5 linked regions of the Homo sapiens genome follow. The protein of the gene in region 5 purifies or fractionates together with the protein of the main gene of each other region. This does not show direct contact. Each region holds a gene or a part of one and is shown on either strand. Other genes may lie near its edges.

What was found.
Region 1: the proteins of QTRT2 (region 5) and BDH1 purify together in Homo sapiens (affinity purification with mass spectrometry, with the first as the bait; one large-scale study listed by BioGRID). This does not show direct contact.
Region 2: the proteins of QTRT2 (region 5) and WAC fractionate together in Homo sapiens (co-fractionation; one large-scale study listed by BioGRID). This does not show direct contact.
Region 3: the proteins of QTRT2 (region 5) and PGM3 purify together in Homo sapiens (affinity purification with mass spectrometry, with the first as the bait; one large-scale study listed by BioGRID). This does not show direct contact.
Region 4: the proteins of QTRT2 (region 5) and MTARC1 purify together in Homo sapiens (affinity purification with mass spectrometry, with the first as the bait; one large-scale study listed by BioGRID). This does not show direct contact.

Annotation. Positions count from the first base shown.
Region 1 is NC_000003.12:197,510,670-197,514,981, reverse strand, and holds part of BDH1 (D-beta-hydroxybutyrate dehydrogenase, mitochondrial precursor), read left to right. Parts: intron 1-565; coding exon 566-718; intron 719-2,617; coding exon 2,618-3,087; 3' UTR 3,088-4,312.
Region 2 is NC_000010.11:28,620,118-28,623,612, forward strand, and holds the end of WAC (WW domain-containing adapter protein with coiled-coil), read left to right. Parts: 3' UTR 1-2,995; downstream 2,996-3,495.
Region 3 is NC_000006.12:83,172,389-83,176,700, reverse strand, and holds part of PGM3 (phosphoacetylglucosamine mutase), read left to right. Parts: intron 1-640; coding exon 641-739; intron 740-2,213; coding exon 2,214-2,327; intron 2,328-4,312. UniProt on the Homo sapiens protein: Catalyzes the conversion of GlcNAc-6-P into GlcNAc-1-P during the synthesis of uridine diphosphate/UDP-GlcNAc, a sugar nucleotide critical to multiple glycosylation pathways including protein N- and O-glycosylation.
Region 4 is NC_000001.11:220,796,236-220,800,547, forward strand, and holds part of MTARC1 (mitochondrial amidoxime-reducing component 1 precursor), read left to right. Parts: intron 1-407; coding exon 408-570; intron 571-1,638; coding exon 1,639-1,779; coding exon of another isoform or gene 1,780-1,830; intron 1,831-1,916; exon of another isoform or gene 1,917-2,040; intron 2,041-2,596; exon of another isoform or gene 2,597-2,954; intron 2,955-4,312. UniProt on the Homo sapiens protein: Catalyzes the reduction of N-oxygenated molecules, acting as a counterpart of cytochrome P450 and flavin-containing monooxygenases in metabolic cycles.
Region 5 is NC_000003.12:114,066,451-114,070,762, forward strand, and holds part of QTRT2 (queuine tRNA-ribosyltransferase accessory subunit 2), read left to right. Parts: intron 1-1,536; coding exon 1,537-1,613; intron 1,614-4,175; coding exon 4,176-4,312. UniProt on the Homo sapiens protein: Non-catalytic subunit of the queuine tRNA-ribosyltransferase (TGT) that catalyzes the base-exchange of a guanine (G) residue with queuine (Q) at position 34 (anticodon wobble position) in tRNAs with GU(N) anticodons (tRNA-Asp, -Asn, -His and -Tyr), resulting in the hypermodified nucleoside queuosine (7-(((4,5-cis-dihydroxy-2-cyclopenten-1-yl)amino)methyl)-7-deazaguanosine).

The sequences.
Region 1 (4,312 bases), about 83 Mb from region 5:
GAGGCAGGGCCCAGCTCTGTCCTGAGGCTCTGACCCATCCAGCCTTTGCACCCCAACAAACTGAACTCAGAGAGGTCCCTGCAAAACACAGCTGCCTCCTCGTGCCCACCTCCCCTGTGATTTCCCTGGCTTCTGGCAAGAGAAGAGAAGACGTGAGCAAAAGCTCAAGGGCAGAGATGAGTAAACAGGAACGGGGCGTGAAACTCAAACTCAGGGTGTGGGGATGGGATGGGGTGGAGTGGAGTGGAAGTGGGAATTTGAGGTGAGGTGAGACTGAAGGCCGGGGGACACGGCAGGCTGGGTCATGATGGGCCCAGAGACTCGAGCCAGGCAGATGTGACGTGAGGACTGGACATTCTAGACGCAAGGGAGGGCTGCAGTCAGCACTTTAGGCCTCTTTACCTCCTGTCGTTCCTGAGTGACTCTAGAAAGTTTCTTGAGAGCACTGGGCGAGAGGCTGGGAAGTCACAGGAAAGAAGCAGAGAGGAGGCTGGCCTGCAGGCTGATGGGCAATGTCTGGGCCAAGCCCATGTGGTAAATGCACATCTATCCCTCTCCTGTCCAGGCATGTGGGGCCTCGTTAACAATGCCGGCATCTCAACGTTCGGGGAGGTGGAGTTCACCAGCCTGGAGACCTACAAGCAGGTGGCAGAAGTGAACCTTTGGGGCACAGTGCGGATGACGAAATCCTTTCTCCCCCTCATCCGAAGGGCCAAAGGTGAGTGGGAAAGGGAGCTCCCTCCTGCCCCTGAACCTGCCCCACGTGTTCATCTTTGCTCAGAATGGAAATACCTGTCCCAGCAGCTCCAATGTCCACAACTCAGCAGAGGTGAGCTCGTGAATCCCAGGGACTATGCTGGGCCTGGGGTGATGGTGGGCAGAGGGGCTGTGGCCGGGTAGGGGAGGAGGAAGCAGAGCAGGTAAGAGGTCAGTGGTCCATGCAGCAAAAGCTTAAAGAGTTGAGCAGCCATCCACTCTGCACACCTAATCTATAGAGAGAATCACCCTTTGCACAAAGCTGTGTGTACACATCTTTGTATCAGTCAGGTGTGGTTAGTAAAATCTGGCATATTCATTCTATGGGTTATTTATATCGTAGTTTAAAAAATGAGATCATTGTGGTATTAGGGAACAATAGTAAAAATCAAGATTAGAAATTTGGAAAACCAACAAAACACCCAAACCATGTGGGTGGCCAAATGTGAGCAAACCACTTTAGAAGTCATTGACTTGGATTTTTTTCTCTGGCATAGCAAACAATTGTGGCAAAAAGGGTAAGATCCATACATCTATGGTGAAGTCCTAGCAACAACAAGCATGAACACAGACTGCAGCTGTAGGATTTTAGATGGAAACCCCAACCCTTCAGTGACTTCAAATTTAGAGCTTTCTGAAAGGTGCCTCCCCCAGGATGGGCTGAGTTCCCTCCCGGGGACACACCTGGATGGGCTGAGTGCCCTCCCGGGGACACACCTGGATGGGCTGAGTGCCCTCCCGGGGGCACACCTGGATGGGCTGAGTGCCCTCCCGGGGGCACACCTGGATGGGCTGAGGGCCCTCCCGGGGGCACACCTGGATGGGCTGAGTGCCCTCCCGGGGGCACACCTGGATGGGCTGAGTGCCCTCCCGGGGACACACCTGGATGGGCTGAGTGCCCTCCCCGGGACACACCTGGATGGGCTGAGTTCCCTCCCAGGAAAACTGGTCCCAGATCCGCCTCGGCTTCCCGGGCTGGGCCAAATGCAATCCACTTCCAACCCCTCTGTTCCCAGGGCCAGGAGGAGCTGTGGGAGGCCCCTGATGCCCCCAGGCTGGGCCTGTGGCCTTTGGAGGGGGATCACCACACTCTCCCAGTGCCCAGGACTCTCTCCTCATATCCTAGCCCTGAAGTCAGGTTCAGAAATCCTGCCCCTGCCCCTGCCTGCTGCTCTGTTTGCCAGGCGGTCCTGGTCTCCACCCAGGCTCCACCCTACCAGGGTGGAATGGAGTTGGGGAGTTGGGCCTAACAGCACGGGTCCTGTCCTCTTTCAGGGCTGTCCCGGGGCTCCCTCCCAGCTGCAGCCCCAGGTACTTCCTCGTCTGCACTCCAACCCCCATCGCCAGGGCTGCTGTCAGTGGCTAGACACTTGGCCCTAGTGTGCTACTTATCTGCACGTCGTACTACTGGAGCTGGACTTTAAGCTCCATAAGGGGAAGGGGAAGCTTTCAGGCTGTATTTCTCCCTCACCAGCACCAGACCTTGCCTATAGTGAAAGCTCAGATCCACACAGACAGCTGTCTCGCCTCCCACTTCTCCCCTCGTGTTTTCACCCCAAATTATCACCGCATCGGGCTTGATCTGGTTTTTGAGTCAGTTGCGTGTTGCCCATTACACTGTGCCCTGCTGCTTCTCACTCACTTGTCCTCCCCTGTCCTGCCTGGCACAGCCAGGTTCCCAGGGAAGACCAGGGGTGCCGATGCTGATGCGTGGGCCTGAGCTGGCCTTGCCTATTGACTGAGAAGGCTCCTGGGTGGCTCAGAAGTGGTTCCAGCCAAGCCTCTAGAGACATGCCAGACTTCTGCCCGCTGTGTCATAGGGCAGTAACGGCTTAGCAGGTACCTCTGTCTCCCTCTGTAGGCCGCGTCGTCAATATCAGCAGCATGCTGGGCCGCATGGCCAACCCGGCCCGCTCCCCGTACTGCATCACCAAGTTCGGGGTAGAGGCTTTCTCGGACTGCCTGCGCTATGAGATGTACCCCCTGGGCGTGAAGGTCAGCGTGGTGGAGCCCGGCAACTTCATCGCTGCCACCAGCCTTTACAGCCCTGAGAGCATTCAGGCCATCGCCAAGAAGATGTGGGAGGAGCTGCCTGAGGTCGTGCGCAAGGACTACGGCAAGAAGTACTTTGATGAAAAGATCGCCAAGATGGAGACCTACTGCAGCAGTGGCTCCACAGACACGTCCCCTGTCATCGATGCTGTCACACACGCCCTGACCGCCACCACCCCCTACACCCGCTACCACCCCATGGACTACTACTGGTGGCTGCGAATGCAGATCATGACCCACTTGCCTGGAGCCATCTCCGACATGATCTACATCCGCTGAAGAGTCTCGCTGTGGCCTCTGTCAGGGATCCCTGGTGGAAGGGGAGGGGAGGGAGGAACCCATATAGTCAACTCTTGATTATCCACGTGTGGATTATCCACCATGCCAGGAAGACCCATAACTGGTTTTAACACTAACTAGAGGGAATGACTTCTTTGCATAGTGAGTGACTTGGGCCTTCACAAACAGGGTGTGGAGTGGCAGGCAGAGGCCTCTAAATCTCAGGGCAAACATGGTGAATCTATCTCTCCGGAGATAATTTCATACAGAGATTTTAAGAAAACATCTTTATATTAAAAACAGATCTCATTTGATCCTTAAGCCAGTCTCATGAATGAAAAGGACAGGTTTTTTTCTTTTGTAAATGAAGCATTTGCAGCTTAAAGAGGATGCATGAAATAACCCTTTTATCGCTTATAAATAGTGCCAGTTATGTGTTCCTGCCACGGCTGTGGAAATACTTCACATTTGCATTCCAGGACTGTTTTGGATCCATTTGCCCGAGAATCTTCTGACTAACTCTGTGTCCTCATCTGGGCAGCACACACCAAGTGCCCACTGGTACCTCTGCATGTCCATGGTGCTGTGTGACTGGCCAGCCAGCAGCCAGTGACTCAGAGCTGGCTGTATGGAGGGGGTGGGAATGTTTCTGGAGATTTTTGTTTTTCCAGACACAGTCTTGCTCAGTCCCCTAGGCTGGAGTGCAATGGCACCATCTCCGCTCACTGCAACCTCCGCCTCCCTGGTTCAAGCGGTTCTCCTGCCTCAGCCTTCCAAGTAGCTGGGGTTATAGGCACCCACCACCATGCCGGGCTAATTTTTGTATTTTTAGTAGAGATGGGGTTTCACCATGTTGGCTAGGCTGGTCCCGAACTCCCGACTTCAAGTGATCCGCCTGCCTTGGCCTCCCAAAGTGCTGGGATTACAGGCATGAGATTTTTACTTGAGATTTTTCCATCCTCTTTTAGGACTCAGGATAGACTTGTGTGGAGGTGCTCTCTGGCTAAGGGGATAAGTTGTTACTGGTTTGGGTCTGCTTGGTTTTGCCTTGGGTGGGGCCGGTGTCGATGGGGCAGGCTTGGCACGAGCAGTGGTGCCATGGCAGGGCACTGTGGCATCTCCCCTAGCAGTGGATTTGGGGTCCCTGCTTGCCTCACGTGGTGCTTACACACATGTACACACACACACACACACACACACACACACACACCTTACACACATGTAC
Region 2 (3,495 bases), on a different chromosome or scaffold from region 5:
CACCTGATCAAGAGCAGTGCTTCTCCATTTGTTTTGCAGAGAAATGTTTTTCATTTCCCGTGTGTTTCCATTTCCTTCTGAAATTCTGATTTTATCCATTTTTTTAAGGCTCCTCTTTATCTCCTTTCTTAAGGCACTGTTGCTATGGCACTTTTCTATAACCTTTTCATTCCTGTGTACAGTAGCTTAAAATTGCAGTGATTGAGCATAACCTACTTGTTTGTATAAATTATTGAAATCCATTTGCACCCTGTTAAGAATGGACTTAAAAGTACTGCTGGACAGGCATGTGTGCTCAAAGTACATTGATTGCTCAAATATAAGGAAATGGCCCAATGAACGTGGTTGTGGGAGGGGAAAGAGGAAACAGAGCTAGTCAGATGTGAATTGTATCTGTTGTAATAAACATGTTAAAACAAACAAAAATTGTTATTTTTCTTTTCCTTCGGTCAGTGCACATTAGCATTTGAACTACCTGGGGATTCTTTATCAGAACTGTTCTTGTTGAATATTTATACTTAATTGAAATAATTCCTTAAGGGAGGTTTTGTTTAAAACGTATTAACAGGAAATTGTGTATGAGATATTTAATGAAATAAGAAATTCAACAAGAATGATTAAGTCACTTCCCAAGTGGTTGTCATTTGTTAAACCCTGGTTTACCTGTCTTGCTATTATGACATTTCATTTGGAAGGATGTTTGTGTTGTAGCTAACTGTTCAAGTCTGGTGCTGACTGCTGTTCTTAGCCATCACAAAACGCTAAATTTGTGTAATTGGAGCTTCCTGCTGTTATCTGGAAATAGCAGGAAAGCGCAGCTTTGTATATTGTTTCCTAAAGTATATTAAAATAAAAAAAGAAACTATTGCTACTATAAAATTACCTTGACTTTTTTTTTCCTTTGCTGAAATATTAGTCACATAGCCTTAGCTTCACACTGCCAGTAATGTATCAAATCACAAGGGTTTCCGCATGAAAAAAATCTTTTCTTCCCCCACAAAAAAACCTTTACCATCAAAATCTTGCCATCTGATTTAGAAAGGTGTTTCTTCTTCTTCTTCTTTTTTTTCTTTAAATTGGTTTAGGGTTTTTTGGTGATTTTTTTTTTTTTTTTTTTTCTGTTGGGGCAGATAAGTGCTTCCAAAACTGGCAGCACCAAGGGCTTATTTTTTATGTTAGACATCAATGTCAATGTTACTACATTCTCGGATGCTAACATAAATTTTGAAATTGCTCTTGTGCTTTAAGCATATATTGAAAGTATGGAAGTTAAATGTTCAGGCTTTTCAGTAAGCTCAAAAAGTTAACTGTAAGCGATAGTGTTGGTGTTTTCTAAAATACAAAAATGTTCCAGTGTAATTAAAAGGAATTAAAATCTTGAAGATATTTTCCTGTAATTTAAGGATACTTTTTAAATGTAAGAAAAGACATGTCATTAATTTATTGTCATGTTTATACCTCTGTGAGATTGTTAACATCTGCTGAATTTAACTAGTGCATGTAAATGAAACCCCAAAGAGCTGTGTGTTCAGCTAGAAACCTTACTGTATCTTTCCTGGAAAGAAGTGAGCAATTTGTTGTAATAGGCAAATGTTTCCTGATCAGATGGCAATTTGTGATTTAGGTAAATTTGAATTTGATTTGCTTATAGTCTACTGGTCTGTGTACCTATGTTTTGTTTTTCAAAAAAGTTTACATCCCTAAATGAATTAGTCACATATATTTAGGAGAAGATGCCTAATTTGGTATTTCTTAATAGTGAATTTTTTTTTTTCTTGAGACAGAGTTTCACTCTTGTTGCCCAGGCTGGAGTGCAATGGCACGATCTCGGCTCACCGCAACCTCTGCCTCCTGGGTTCAAGCGATTCTCCTGCCTCGGCGTTCCGAGTAGCTGGGATTACAGGCATGCACCACCACGCCTGGCTAATTTTGTATTTTTAGTAGAGATGGGGTTTCTCCATGTTGGTCAGGCTGGTCTTGAACTGCCAACTTCAGGTGATCTGCCTGCCTTGGCCTCCCAAAGTGCTGGGATTACAGGCGTGAGCCACCGCTCCTGGCCAGTAGTGAATTTTTAAACACAGAAAATCTAAAATTTTGTGGAAATATTTTAAATATTGCACCTTAATACAAGGTATCCAGCTCCTAACCTTAACTAGGGAATATCTATTAAAATAAGCATAATGTTCTGGACTAGAGTATTCCTTATCTAGTTGGTTATGGATTTGAACATGTACCTTGGTTTAGATACTTTGAAAATAGAAGTACTGAATAGCCTCTAGGGAACTTGAGTGGCCTTTCCCTCCCCCTGCCCCCCCCCCCCCCCCCCCGTTTTAAAAGATCAGTAGTCTCTATTCAAACTTTTAAAATGTCGTGGTATTGTAACAATATATTTGATGAAAGAAGGTTACAGACTCCCCTGAAGAACCAGCTTTCCTACGCTTTTTATTTTTCTAACTTGTCTAACCTGATTTTAAAATGACTGCAATTCCAGACTAAAAACATGCTTCAGCCCTGTTTCAAGACATTATGCTTCTTTTAACAGTCCAAATTAGTAGTTTTATTTTTCTTCTAAATCTTTGTTTCACACTTGTAAAATCTTGGGAAGGAGGTTCTTAAAACTTTGCCAGGAATTGTTACCCATTTCCAAAAACAGTTTATTATGTTCAAAAACCACCATATCTTTGAGGGACTGTTTGAAAGGGGAGAGGGCAACGCGGGAAATAATTCACTCTGCGCACCGGAACTATTGTAGTTCAGGACTTCCAGCTACTGTATTTAGATGTTGGGTTTGAATATACAGATTTCTTTTCAATACCTGTAAATATGGCTATATTCTTGTATTTGTACGGGAGTGTACAAAATGACACTGAAAAGTAATAAATATGTTTTGACTATATTGTGCAGTTATTTCAGAACTGTGTTTTGAAAGTCTTAGAATGCATAATTTGCATTTGAGTAAGGAAATTTAAAATACAGATTACTGCTGAGATTTTAATCAGTCGGTGTGTTTCAATAGTCTCTGAAACATTTTAGTGAAAATTATGACGTAAAATTGGGATTCTTTAGGTCCTGCTCTAATTTGCGGTACCCTCCTTTTCCTGATCACGACCTTTGATAGTGCCCTAAAGTGCAGCCTGTCTAGAAGATCTCATCCAGGCTCTTGGCTCTAAAAACCCCTTCATGTGCTACTTTACATCCCGATTATCTCCAGCCCTGATCTCTTTGAGTTCCCAAAAACAGTCCACTTAGATGCTTTCCTTAACACGGCATGCACTCCAAAAAGAACTCACGGTTTGTGCCTCAGATTATTCTCTTTTAGTTTTTTAGTAATTGACACCATCATTGTTAAAGTTGCCCAAAACCCAAATCAAGTCATCCTTCTTTTCTAACACTCGATATTTAATCCATCAAGACCCACAAGCTCTTTGAAAATGTTTCCTTAATGTTCACCTCTCTAGTCCAATCCACGATCATCTTTGAACCAAATCCCTGCCA
Region 3 (4,312 bases), on a different chromosome or scaffold from region 5:
TCAATCTTTCCTTAACCATTCTTAAAGCTCTCTCAGATCCATCCATCCATGACTTTCCCTATTCACTATTGCTGATCCAGCCACTATTTCTTACTGGGATTAGTCCTAGAAGCCTCCTCATTCCATTTCTTAACCTTCTAATTGAACTTGCTGCTATTTGCAAACAAAGTTTTATTGGAATAGAGCTATGTTGATTTGTTTATGTATGGTCTGTGGCTGCTTTTGCACTGTAATGGCAGAGTAATTGTGACAGAGACCATATGGCCTGCAAAGCCTAAAATATTTACTGTCTGGCCTGTTACAGAAAAAGCTTGCAATTCTGCTCTAAGCTATTCTCCACACTGTAGCTAAACAGCTTTCTAAAACAGTTAGGTCATGTCACGCCCCCACTTGTAATCTTTCGTGTCTTATAAGGAGACCCTCATCTCTCTCACCGTGCTTTACCCTTGGCTGCGTGCTTCCAGAGTGTGTTCATGCTTCCATTGTATACGTACCATTTTGTATTTTAATGCTTAATCGTCTTCCTCACTGGACTCGGCCCCAGTATTTTGTTCCCCTTTGTATCTCTGGGATACTAGGTATGCAAGAAACATTTGACATCTGAGTAATTGCTGTATTTCTTTAAATGCATGTGTTATAGGTACCTGTCTATTGCACTAAGACTGGTGTAAAACATTTGCACCACAAGGCTCAAGAGTTTGACATTGGAGTTTATTTTGAAGCAAATGGGCATGGCACTGTAAGTTCTCTTAATTATAGTTGGCCTTAGCTGGCACTTTTCTTTATGATGAGACTTCTATATCTGGGAGGTAATAATAGGTAATATTGTACTTTGTTGAAATAATTGGATGTGACAAAAAGATCCTTTGGTTATCTTATATATTGATGTATTATGAAACTGTGATTCTCTTTTACATGGTAATGATTCTTCTTTGAATGTGAAGAGATATACTAAGGTGTTTTGAATAGTTTTTTAAAATTTACAGTTCTTAATTTTTTTATAAGTATGTTGTCTATGCATTTTCCGGCTGGCCATAGGAGAGGAAAAGAAAAATTCAGTCGCTATGGTGAATTGCAAAGTGTTGGAAAGTTGATAATTAATAAGAAATGAAAATGAATTTAAGGTAACTAGTGATAGGCATAAAATGTTTCAATTTACATTTTACATAAAATTACATTTTAAAGTGTATAATTTAGTTTTTTGTAGATTCATAATGTTCAGAATATTTTTAAAATGTTTTTATACTCACCTCATTTAATGAATACACTTGAGGTGGCTATCAGAACATTTGAATCAAAGCCAAATAATTTTCCTCATTAATTTAAAATTGGCTTTTGGAGGGCATAAATATAAAAAGGGGAAAAATAAGTTCCTACAAAATGCAATTAAGATATAACTTTAGTGATCGAATGGAGAAGTTGGTAAATTATTTTCTAAAGGGTAGAGAGTAAATATTTTTGGATTTTCAGGCCATAAGGTCTCTTACAGTTGTTTAACTCTGCTGATCTAGCTTAAATGAATCTGTGTGGTTGTGTTCCAGTAAAACTTTACAAAAACAGGTGACTAGCCTGTGCCTTATTTTATCAAGAAAAATGTATTTCATCAAGTAGTTGAGCATAGTATGCTAATCTTGCTCAGTATTAGGCCTCTAGAAGGCAGTAAAAAAGATGAGTATTTCCAAATGAGATAAGACTCTTGAGGAGCATGATGAATTATATATTGTAATGACTATCCATGACATTATTTGCCATATTTTGATGAATACTATGAACTCTTAATTTTGCCTAGCTCATCCCCTTAAGTTTTAGAATAAAACTATACTAGCTGCAATGAATTATATCCTTCAAAGTAAAAAGGATACAGACAGGCTCTAAGTAACCTGGTTGCACAGAAATGATTTAGCTGGTTAAAGGGAAAACATGAACTTACTGTGTGTGCTTGCCTCTTGTCAAGGTGGTGTTTTCTTTGTAATCAGATGTTTAAATTTTTATAACCAGTTATATAATCCGCAAATAAAATTTTTCCCCTAGTACTATCCTCTGGGTTTTAATGTGATCTTACATTAATTTCATACATTTTAAGGCTGCCACTATTTTTCCCCTCAGTTTCTCCAGATTGACTAGGAGGGAAAAGTGGGTTAGCTAGAATAATAGTACTTATGACTAGGTTTTGGATAGTGTTTTGAGACTGATTTTATATTCTTTTGCTGCAGGCACTGTTTAGTACAGCTGTTGAAATGAAGATAAAACAATCAGCAGAACAACTGGAAGATAAGAAAAGAAAAGCTGCTAAGATGCTTGAAAACATTATTGACTTGTTTAACCAGGTCAGAACTGATGGGGCAGTGGACTCTTGGTTACCTTTACATTATTCAGAAGATGGACAGAACAGAGTGTGGGTGCATACAAAATTAAAGTGGAGACGTCCTGGCCTGGTGGCTTCCTTCTAATAGTGGTATATTCAGTTGAGATTTATAATGAAATGGAATGACAGAACATTTTTTAATATGCTTCCCTTCCCCTACCTCTTATGATGGAAATTTTCAAGTATATTGGGTAGCTTCTACCTAGGATCACAGATTCAGCTACTCAGTGTATACATATATATTATTAATTTTTTTTTAACCAAACCTCGATGAAATTAAGTAAAAATAACTGGTTGTCAGGCCAGGCACGGTGGCTCATGCCTGTAATCCCAGCCCTTTGGGAGGCCAAGGAGGGCGGATCACGAGGTCAGGAGATCGAGACCCTCCTGGCTAACAGGGTGAAACCTCGTCTCTACTAAAAATACAAAAAATTAGCCGGGCATGGTGGCGGGCACCTGTAGTCCCAGCTACTCGGGAGGCTGAGGCAGGAGCATGGTGTGAACCCGGGAGGCAGAGCTTGCAGTGAGCCAAGATCACGCCACTGCACTCCAGCCTGGGTGACAGAGCGAGACTCTGTCTCAAAAACAAACACAAATAACTGGTTGTCTCATTGACAAAGGACATACATGTGGGTTAGTTGGGGTTGGAGTGTCGTTTGGCTATGGAAAAGCAGTACTCAGGGTAGAGGAAAGCGATTCAATTATTTGAGTGTCTTGCACACACTGGACACTTTATATACCTTGCTGTGTAATCCTTACAGTAACACAGGGAGAGGTGTTACTGTAATTTCCATTTTATAAGTGAAGAAACAGAGATTTATCTTCAGTTATATCTTATACCAAAGCTCATATTTCTCCATTTTACCTTGATGCTTTCTATCAATCATTGTGGGGTAATATCTCAAAAGGGATCTATTTATAAAAAGAAAAATGAGTGATGGAATGTTAGGCTGAGCCTTAGAGTTATCCAGTCTAATTTCATTTTATAAATAAGGAGTACTAAAGGCAAGTTTCTCAAGAGCTAGTTTCAGTATTCTTTGTTATACCTTTCATTGTCTTCCACAGAGATCTTCACCTCATTGTTCGTATTTTATCCATCCACAAAAACACTTCATTTAATCATGCTGCATGTGAGAAAGCACATGATATAGGCTGAGTATCCCTTATCCAAAATGCATGGGACTAGAAGTGTTTTGGGTTCCAGATTCACTGGATTTTGGGATATTTGCATATATATAATGTGACATCTTGGGTATGGCACTCAAGTCGGAAACACTAAATTCTTTTGTTTCATGTATGTTACATAAGATTAAAGGTGGTTTTATAGAATACTGTAAATTTAGTGCATGAAACAAAGTTTGTGTCTACTGAACCATCAGAAAGCAAAGGTGTCACTCTGTCAGCCACCCGTTGGACAATCTGTGGTTGTCTGGCATCACCATCATTCCTAAAACTCTGAATTTATATGCTATCAATCAATAAGCAATCAATCATTTTTTTACACTTATTCACACACAAGTATTTTAATAGTAAAAAATATGATACATATCTGGCATGCATGGAAACGATGTATCATAGCTGAAGGAGGCTGAGAGGGTCTTTTTCCCTTGGGGATGCTGAATGAACTGCGGGCCTGCCTTTAGTGGGTTTTTTTTGTTGTTGTTGTTGTTTTGTTTTGAGATGGAGTCTCGCTCTGTTGCCCACGCTGGAGTGCAGTGGCGCAATCTTGGCTCACTGCAACCTCTGCCTCCCGGGCTCAAGCAATTCTCCTGCCTCAGCCTCCCGAGTAGATGGGATTACAGGCGCCCACTACCACACCTAGCTAATTTTTGTATTTTTAGTATAGATGGCGTTTTACCATGTTGGCCAGGCTGGTTTCAAATTCCTGACAGTGAGGTCAGGAGTGCATTTGTTTTTTATTAAGAGACAAGGTCTTGCTATGTTGCC
Region 4 (4,312 bases), on a different chromosome or scaffold from region 5:
GCCTGTGAATAAAGATTTCTGGTCGCTATTCAGCTGGGTGAACTAGATTTTGCAGTAATTCTAAGTTTACTTTATACTGATACATTAGTTTTCTTCTGGAGAACTCAGTACATTTTTAAATATATTATTTCATTTCATCCTCCCTGCATTCCTTCCAGGTAGGGAGACACAGTTGTACAAAACTTGATTTTTAAAATGAGGAAAGCAATGCTTAAAGGGGTGCTTTCATTTTCATTTGGCCTTACACAGGTTTGGAGTCAGGACCAGGACTAAAATTACATCTTCTGATAATTAAGAAATGACAGTAATGTTACAGCTAGGAGCAGCTTTTCTGATATAGCTGGCACATATTAGGGTGCATGGATTTTCAAAGCCATGTCTGCCCTTTGCTCCTGCTACCCCTGCAGAGTGCACGGCCTGGAGATAGAGGGCAGGGACTGTGGCGAGGCCACCGCCCAGTGGATAACCAGCTTCCTGAAGTCACAGCCCTACCGCCTGGTGCACTTCGAGCCTCACATGCGACCGAGACGTCCTCATCAAATAGCAGACTTGTTCCGACCCAAGGACCAGGTGAGAGGTTCTGCTGCCTCCATGGGTAGAAAGCAGTCACCCCCAGATCAGGGGGCTCAGGTGGCATCTCTGATGACCTCGGCTCTGTTGTTTTCTGGGGCAGCCCTCTGGTAGCTCAGATCACAAGCAGTAGGCAGAAATAAAGCCCTTCCCTTGGAAGCATTGTTTGTTTCTTTGTTTGGGGGACTCTTGAATTTTTGCCCTTGAGCATCTACCTTCCTATTTGTGTAAGCATTCTGATGCCAGTAGGGTTTCAAAACTGTTCTGCACCAGTGTCTTTTTTTCATTCCATTCTGTAATTGCACATGGAGTCCAGAATTTTTACAGTTTGCAGTTGTATGTCAGATTCCAATTGTGCAAGTTGGCATGGGTATGGAGATACACAGACTCAAATGATCAGCCTTAATGGCATAAAGCTCTAAGGATTCATCATAAAAGCAGGGTTTGTAGTACCATATACTGCTTTTACCATGGCCATAAAAAAAATAAATTATGCTGTAGTCCTTACTGCTAAGGAGGCTGAGGTGGGAGGATTGCTTGAGTCCAGAGAGTTGAGGCTGCAGTGATCTGTGATGGCACCATTGCACTACAGCCCAGGTGACAAGGAGTCTCTGTCTCAAAATATATAAATAAAGAAACAAGCAAATGCATAAATTATGGTCAACATAAATATTAATTTGTAAGTTGCATAAAATAAGTATTCATGGAATTAGTGAACATTTAAATCAAACATAATGAGGTCATCAAACTCAACCACCTTATTAAACATTTGAGAAATGGGAGGCTTAGAAAGGTTCAGTGATGTCCCCAAGGGCACATGCCTTGTGGCAGCTTAGGATTGATTCTGAGTCCTTGTTCCCTTCATTCCACCATGCAGTTTCTGCTATCTGCAAGGCTATTGAAAACTTCTGAGTCACTGTGACTTCTATTAAAAGAACAAGAGAACTACTTTGAAAGATTGTGTGTGGGGTGGGGTGGAGCATGGAGGCTATGTCTAGGAACTAGGCACACCTAACCACTGAAAAGTTGGTGTGCCATGTGTTATAACAATGTCTATTTCCTTATCAGATTGCTTACTCAGACACCAGCCCATTCTTGATCCTTTCTGAGGCGTCGCTGGCGGATCTCAACTCCAGGCTAGAGAAGAAAGTTAAAGCAACCAACTTCAGGCCCAATATTGTAATTTCAGGATGCGATGTCTATGCAGAGGTAACACTATGCCCCTTTGGATCTTTCCTTGGATTTGACTTCTTTTTTAAGGTATGAGAGTCTTTGACATTGGATTAGATTATTCTGAAGGGTGCATTATTTATCAACTCTGTAATACATAACAATTTGATTTTTAGATTTATTCAGCACTTAATAAGTGCAGACTTCTGTGTGGAGGATACAAATGTTGATGGGTCAGAGACTGTCATCAAGGAGGCAGTTCAGTATCTAAGGCTTCTAAGGAGAATTCTGAGTTGACAGGTTCGTTGTTGAGTCACATTTTCTTGCATAGACTACATGATCTGTGTGGGCCATGGAACAAAGAAAGTGTGTGCTCCTGTCTTGTTAAAGGATGGTCTTACTGTTTAGTAGACGGCTCTCTTGGAGAAGACAGGCATTTACTGCAAGGCTGCTGGGTGAGGGTTGGGAGAGGTTGTTGCCCCTAAGCTTCATGGCACTACCCTGAAATGCTTGCAGTGCCACCTTCCATCTGCCCTCAGATGTTTGCGTGGTGACTTAGCTTGAACAGCCCTGAGGCTTGGTTTCTGGGATTCCACAGGATTCTGGCAGCAAATTTACCTTTGTAATAAATGGCCTTTGGCTATTTAACTTGATTCTCTCCCTGGGCTTCCATGAAGGCAGAGGTTGGTGGCCTAGAGGCATGGTGAGTGGCCACCAGCTGTGGATACTCAACAGAAACCCTGACCCACAGCTAGGAATTCAGGAGCTCTGGTTGTGCCTCAAATTTATGTTGAGAAGGGAGAGGTAAAGGGGACCATATAGTGGTTCTTACGTCTGCCCATTTCCTCCATAACAGGGAAAAATGGAATCAAAGCAATTGAGTTTTAACCTTTTATCCTCAGAGGAGCCAATTATATTCTTCACTTTTGCTGTACGGAGGCAAAACTATGCTGAAAGAGAAATAATCTAAGAATTTGATTCCCACATTCAAACCAGAAGATGTGACGGCTGGTTTCAGCTTCTGCACTGGCTTCTGCATGACTTTGAGCAGCCCCGCTAAGTCCCATTTACCTTGCCTGAACAATGAGATGATCATATTTCTGCCTAGGGTTACCTTAAGGGTCTGTTGAAGGGTCAGTTTGGATAATGTAATTTATGAGATGTATAAAAGCAATATCAATCGATGGAGGATAATAAAAGTACGCCCAAATCCACTGCTAATGCTTCATATAAAATACTCATTGCTCCAAACTTCCAAGGGTAGCGTTTCTTCTAAAGATGGTGGAGAACTTCCTAGTGTGAGGCGGGTGGACTGTGTGCATGTCCCCCAAGGTCCTGGGTTGGGCATCTCTCAGTGCTTCTTTGTGACAAGAAATTTCTGCCTGTCCTGCTCCTGTGCACCATGGGCCAGCCTGACTTAGACAACAGGAAAATAATCAGTGTTTGGTTGCCTTTGACCATCTCCTTGATATTCATCTTCCACCAGCTATGGCTAGGAGAGCCATTTCTCCTGAGAACGTTCCTTCTCAGGAAAAGAGAAATGAGTGGGGAGGGTTTTGAATGAATACTTGTGTTGCGCTTAAGTATGTTGTCTCTTCTATGCCTCACGGCAGCCCAGCGGGATAAAGCTATCATTCCTATCTTACAGGAGAGAAGAGAGAGGCTTGGGGAGGTGAGGTGGCCTGCCCTAGGCTATACCACAGCAAGGAGGGGCTGGGTTTTGAACCCCAATTGTACAAGGCCAGAGGAACCCTGAGAATTCTAGGGCATATGTATGGGGCTGGGACAGCTGGATTCTAATCCACCTGCTTCCGCAAGTGACCGTACAAGCCTGGACAGGTCACCAAACTCGCCGAGGCATCTGCTTCTTGCAGTTGTAAAACACGGGCAGTTTCAATGACTCCCTCGCCTGATGGGAGCTGTGAGAATCAAGGTCGATGACAATTTGTGGAAAAGTTCTAGGACATTAAGTACCACAGGGAGGTAAGGAAGAGTTTCATTCCTGGGAGTTTGGCTCAGGTACCAGCTTTTTCCCTATGATCGACTTTAAGCTTTCTTTCTCCCCTGTGTGATTTGTGCACCGAGGGTCATGCTGAAGCCATTTCCACCCCAAAATTCTGTGACAGTAAGATTCGGATGACAGGAGAAGAGGAGATGGCCCAGAGTAGAACTTCAGATCTCGGAGATTTCTTTCAATTGAGTCTTACTCTAAAAACCCGTATCTCTCTCTCTATCTCTGAGTGTTCCCTAGTTGAGAACATTCTGTATGTGAAGCTGGGCGGTAACACAATGGTGGCTGAGCCGGCCTTGTTTTTAGTAATTCACCCATCATCGAGTGGGTTGCTGCCCCTGTGTGGCATGCGCTGTGAATAGACACATGAGAACAAGGGTTGAAGAAATGCACTTGCTTCTCCTAAGGAGCTCAGTGTGGTCAGATAGTGAAAAGTCACAGCACAGTGAGATATGGCCAGGAGGGTGGCGAGCAGCCAGACGTGGGGACGTGACTAACACCTGCATTGTGGGGTGAGCTGAAGCATGGGGCACCCAGGGCTCTGGTCTCAAACCCTTTCTC
Region 5 (4,312 bases):
CAGTTGCTGCTCTCATGGAATTTGGAGCCTAGCTGGGATAAAGATAGAGAATTCTAGTAAAAATTGTGGTTACTGCTTTACAGGATTAGGGATATGTATGGATATCATGACAGGCCAGAGGGCAGAGCATATAACCTGCTCTAGGGTATATGTGCAAGGTGGTCAGAATAAAAAACGGATTCTTTTTTTTGTTTACGCCTCCATAAAAACCCAGAGAAAGGATTCTTGAGAGAGAAGTTGAGGGGCATTTTAGCTGGGTCAAGGAAGAGTAAAAGTTACCCAGGTTAGGAGTGGGAGCCCAGACAGGTGTGGGGCAGATGCTGCAGGCACTGAGTATCTGACTCAGCGGTGAGAACTTGCATGGGGCATTCGTGAGCTCCAAAGTAGTCTCATCATGCTTGAACCTCAAACATGCAGGGGAGGATGAAGCGTTTGTATATGGCTGTATTCTGATATGTTAATATTATCCTTTATTCCAGAAATAGGATTTTATATGCAGATGTATGCATCTATTTATTTATAGGAAAAGCTTAGCAGTGACAGCTAGAACATCAGTTCTTCTATACACCGCTTTCTCCTAACGCTTTTTCTGGTATCTAGGACTCACTTGAATGAAAATCCTGTTTCCATTGGTTATTCAGTCTTCTGCTTCTGAGAGCAGCTGCATGATGTCCTGTTGGTTATCACAAAGCCCTGTATTTTAGTAGAGGAATTTATGGAATATCATTCTCCTTGACCTGAGCCCAATTTTAATAACCAGCTTTAAAGTATACAAGCATATAATTAAATGAAAATAGCTAATGTAGGCTTTCTAGAGATAATTGTAATAATTGAAATTATGGAAAATAAAGTGAAAAAACTGCAGAGGTTTTACACTTGCTTTTTTTTCACTGGAATCCTGTTTTATTTTCCTTAACGAAAATGTGGGCTAGCATATGATATTTAGGCACATGGTTTACTAAACTTTTTTTGCATTTTTTAAAAAATGATTGTCTTTTTGACTGAAGAACTTAAGAAACTGTCATCGTGAATCAATGAAACTTACTAAGAATGGGATCCATTTGCAGCATCCTATAGCTTCTCTAAAATTCTGCCCCTAGGGACCCATGATATTATTGAGATTTATTATTAGTGAGATCACTTTGTGGGCATATCATTTTATCTTTGCGGTAGCTAGTTCCCCTTGGATGGTACCTGGAATAAGCATATTTGATAGTAAATTCTTTAAGTAAAGTCAAATGAGATCAACATGTCACTAAATACTTTCATTGTATATTGTGCTTTAAGATACATCTTTCCTTTGTAGCAGCTCAGTACCTATTTATTAGACGTGAAGCTTTATATTTCTTTCTTTAGATTAGTAATCTTTTTATACATATTGATAGGCCTTCTCTAATTCCAAGTTCAGATACAACCTATTGACAGTGTTTAGAGTTGCTTTATTCAGCAGTACACATTGCGAAGCTGCTCCCTGCTATAATACAGTGTCATTGTTGATGTAAGCACTTTCAAGGGTTCTTTTTTGTGTTTATACAGGCATGCCAGAATCACTCTTGTACTGCTCCCTGCACGATCCAGTCAGCCCCTGCCCGGCTGGTTATGTAACAAACAAGGTGTGTTTTCAGAAGGGTCTCCAAGGCTGCAGCTTTGTCCCAGGAAGTCAGCCTATGGTGTATCCCTCAGATGCTCAGATCCCACTGTCTGGGATGATCCCTTATACCTTTTCCTTATTTCGATAATTATAGTGGGATGGGATGGTTTATAAGACTTAGAGTAGGGCTGCCTAAGGATGAGGTTAAGATGAAGAACACTGTATCCTCAGCATTTTCATTGTTGCAAAAAAATTTGAGGGTAGAGGAGGGTCAAATACATGCCAAAAAAAGAAATTGCTATGATAGGGGAAAACGATAGTCTTTCGGCGCCATGCTTTGTTGGATTTTTAACAACTTCAGGAAGAGTGGGGAAAGTTGCTGATGAGTATTATCACATGTATAACTATATATAGTAGAATCTCAATATAATATTGTCTGCTGGGTCTACAGCCAGAGATTTTGTCTAGTGAAGAACAGTATCAAAAGCACCTCATTAAAAGTGTTAGGCTGAGAGGTGGCCCCATTGGCATTATCCCTGAGGACAGCATTCTGGCAAAGCTTCAGTGTGTACTGCTACTTTACAAACGCAAATACTTTTCCTGCACTCACTTTATTAATGTCAGCAATATTTATTAATTGTGCCCCTCAGAACACTGTTTTTACTCATTCTCCTGTTTTAAGTTTCTATTTATTTTGTAGTTTGAATTCTAGAGAAAATACTTTGGCTGGGTATGGTGGCTCATGCATGTAATCCCAGCACTTTGGTAGGCCAAGGTGGGTAGATGGCTTGAGCCTCAGGAGTTCGAGATCAGCCTGTCCAACATGGCAAAACCCCATCTCTACTACAGATACAAAAATTAGCCAGGTGTGGTGGCACACGCCTATAATCCCAGCTACTTGGGAGGTGGAGGCAAGAGAATCACTTGAACCTGGGAGGCAGAGGTGGCAGTGAGCCAAAGTCGCACCAGTGCATTGCATTCTAGCCTGGGTGATAGAGCGAGACTCTGTCTCAAAAAAAAAAAAAAATACTTTGACTTCCATTTTCTACCCAAATTGTAAGGGAGAGAGGAATCATTTAACCAGTAATTCTGATGCCTTAGTATAAAATAAAACGACTATATGTTGGCCTGCCATCTATGTCCTTGTTGATCTGAGAAGAGGGATCTGTAGGGTAACCAAAGATAGAATTTTTTTTTCCCTTTTTTTAACTTTTATTTTTGTTTCGGGGGTACGTGTAAACATTGTTACATAGGTAAATTTGTGTCATGGGGGTTTGTTGTACAGATTATTTCATCACTGAGGTATTAAGCCTAGTACCCAATAGTTACCTTTTATCCTTCTCTCCCTCCTTTCACCCTTCACTCACAAGTAGACCCCAGTGTCTGTTGTTCCCTTCTTTGTGTCCATGTGTTCTCATCATTTAGCCCCCACTTATAAGTGAGAACATGTGGTATTTGATTTTCTGTTCCTGCATTTGTTTGCTAGGGACAATGGCCTCCAGTTCCATCTATGTTCCTGCAAAAGACGTGACCTCATTCTTTTTTATGGCTGTATAATATCCCATGGTATATATGTACCACATTTTCTTTATCCAATCTATCATTGATGGACATTTAGGTTGATTGCATGTCTTTGCTATTGTGAATAGTGCTGCAATGTACATTTGCATGCATGTGTCCTTATGGCGGAATGATTTATATTGCTCTGGGTATATGCCCAGTAACGGGATTGCTGGGTTGAATGGTAGTTTTGCTTTTAGCTCAAAGATAGAATATTACTAATATATACTCTCTTGAACTAGGAGATTTAAGTCTTTAATTCTATATCTAACTCAGTCTAGTAAACACTAGATATTAAAAATGTATAGGGCCCTAGACTGTGCTTTTGGGATACATACATGAATTGGGATACTCTAGTCAGACAAATAAAGAATGGTGTAATAAGTGCTATCATTTCTATAAAGAAATAAATACAAATTGATGTAAGAGCATAGAGGAGTGAGTGATCGATTATGTCCAGGAGGTTTGGAGATCAGATTAATATGTGAACTCAGTGTCTCAATGGACACGTAGTATTTTGCCAGGCAAAGAAGTAGAAGTTCCAGCACCTAGAAATAATAAATACTTGAGGTGATGGATACTTAAATACTCTGACATGATTATTACACTTGCCCTATATGTAAGATGTCTCACATGTACCCCATAACATTATACAAATATGTATCAATAAAAAAAAGAAAAAGAAATACGGAACTGTCAGTCAAAAGGAACAGTGTGATCAAAGTCTGTGGTATATTCAGGAACAGCAAGGGTTAGGTAGGGGTGGGGCAGGTGGGATAGGGGAGAGCAGAAGATGTTAGAAAAGTATAACAAAGAATTCTTGGTGGGTAGCTCAAAAGTTGTCTTATATGACCACTGAAGGATTATCTGTAAGCTATAAGATCCTATTACCCACCATGTCTGGATATTGAATTGTCACCATCTCTGCAGTTGTAAAGAAGAATTATTGCTTTATCATTTTAATTATTTTATTTTTATTTGCATTTTACTCTTGCTAATTCCTCATCATTTTGCTCCATGGCAGTCTGTGTCTGTGTGGAGTGTTGCAGGACGAGTGGAAATGACTGTTTCCAAGTTCATGGCAATTCAGAAGGCCCTTCAGCCAGACTGGTTCCAGTGCCTCTCCGATGGAGAAGTATCTTGTAAGGAAGCAACTTCCAT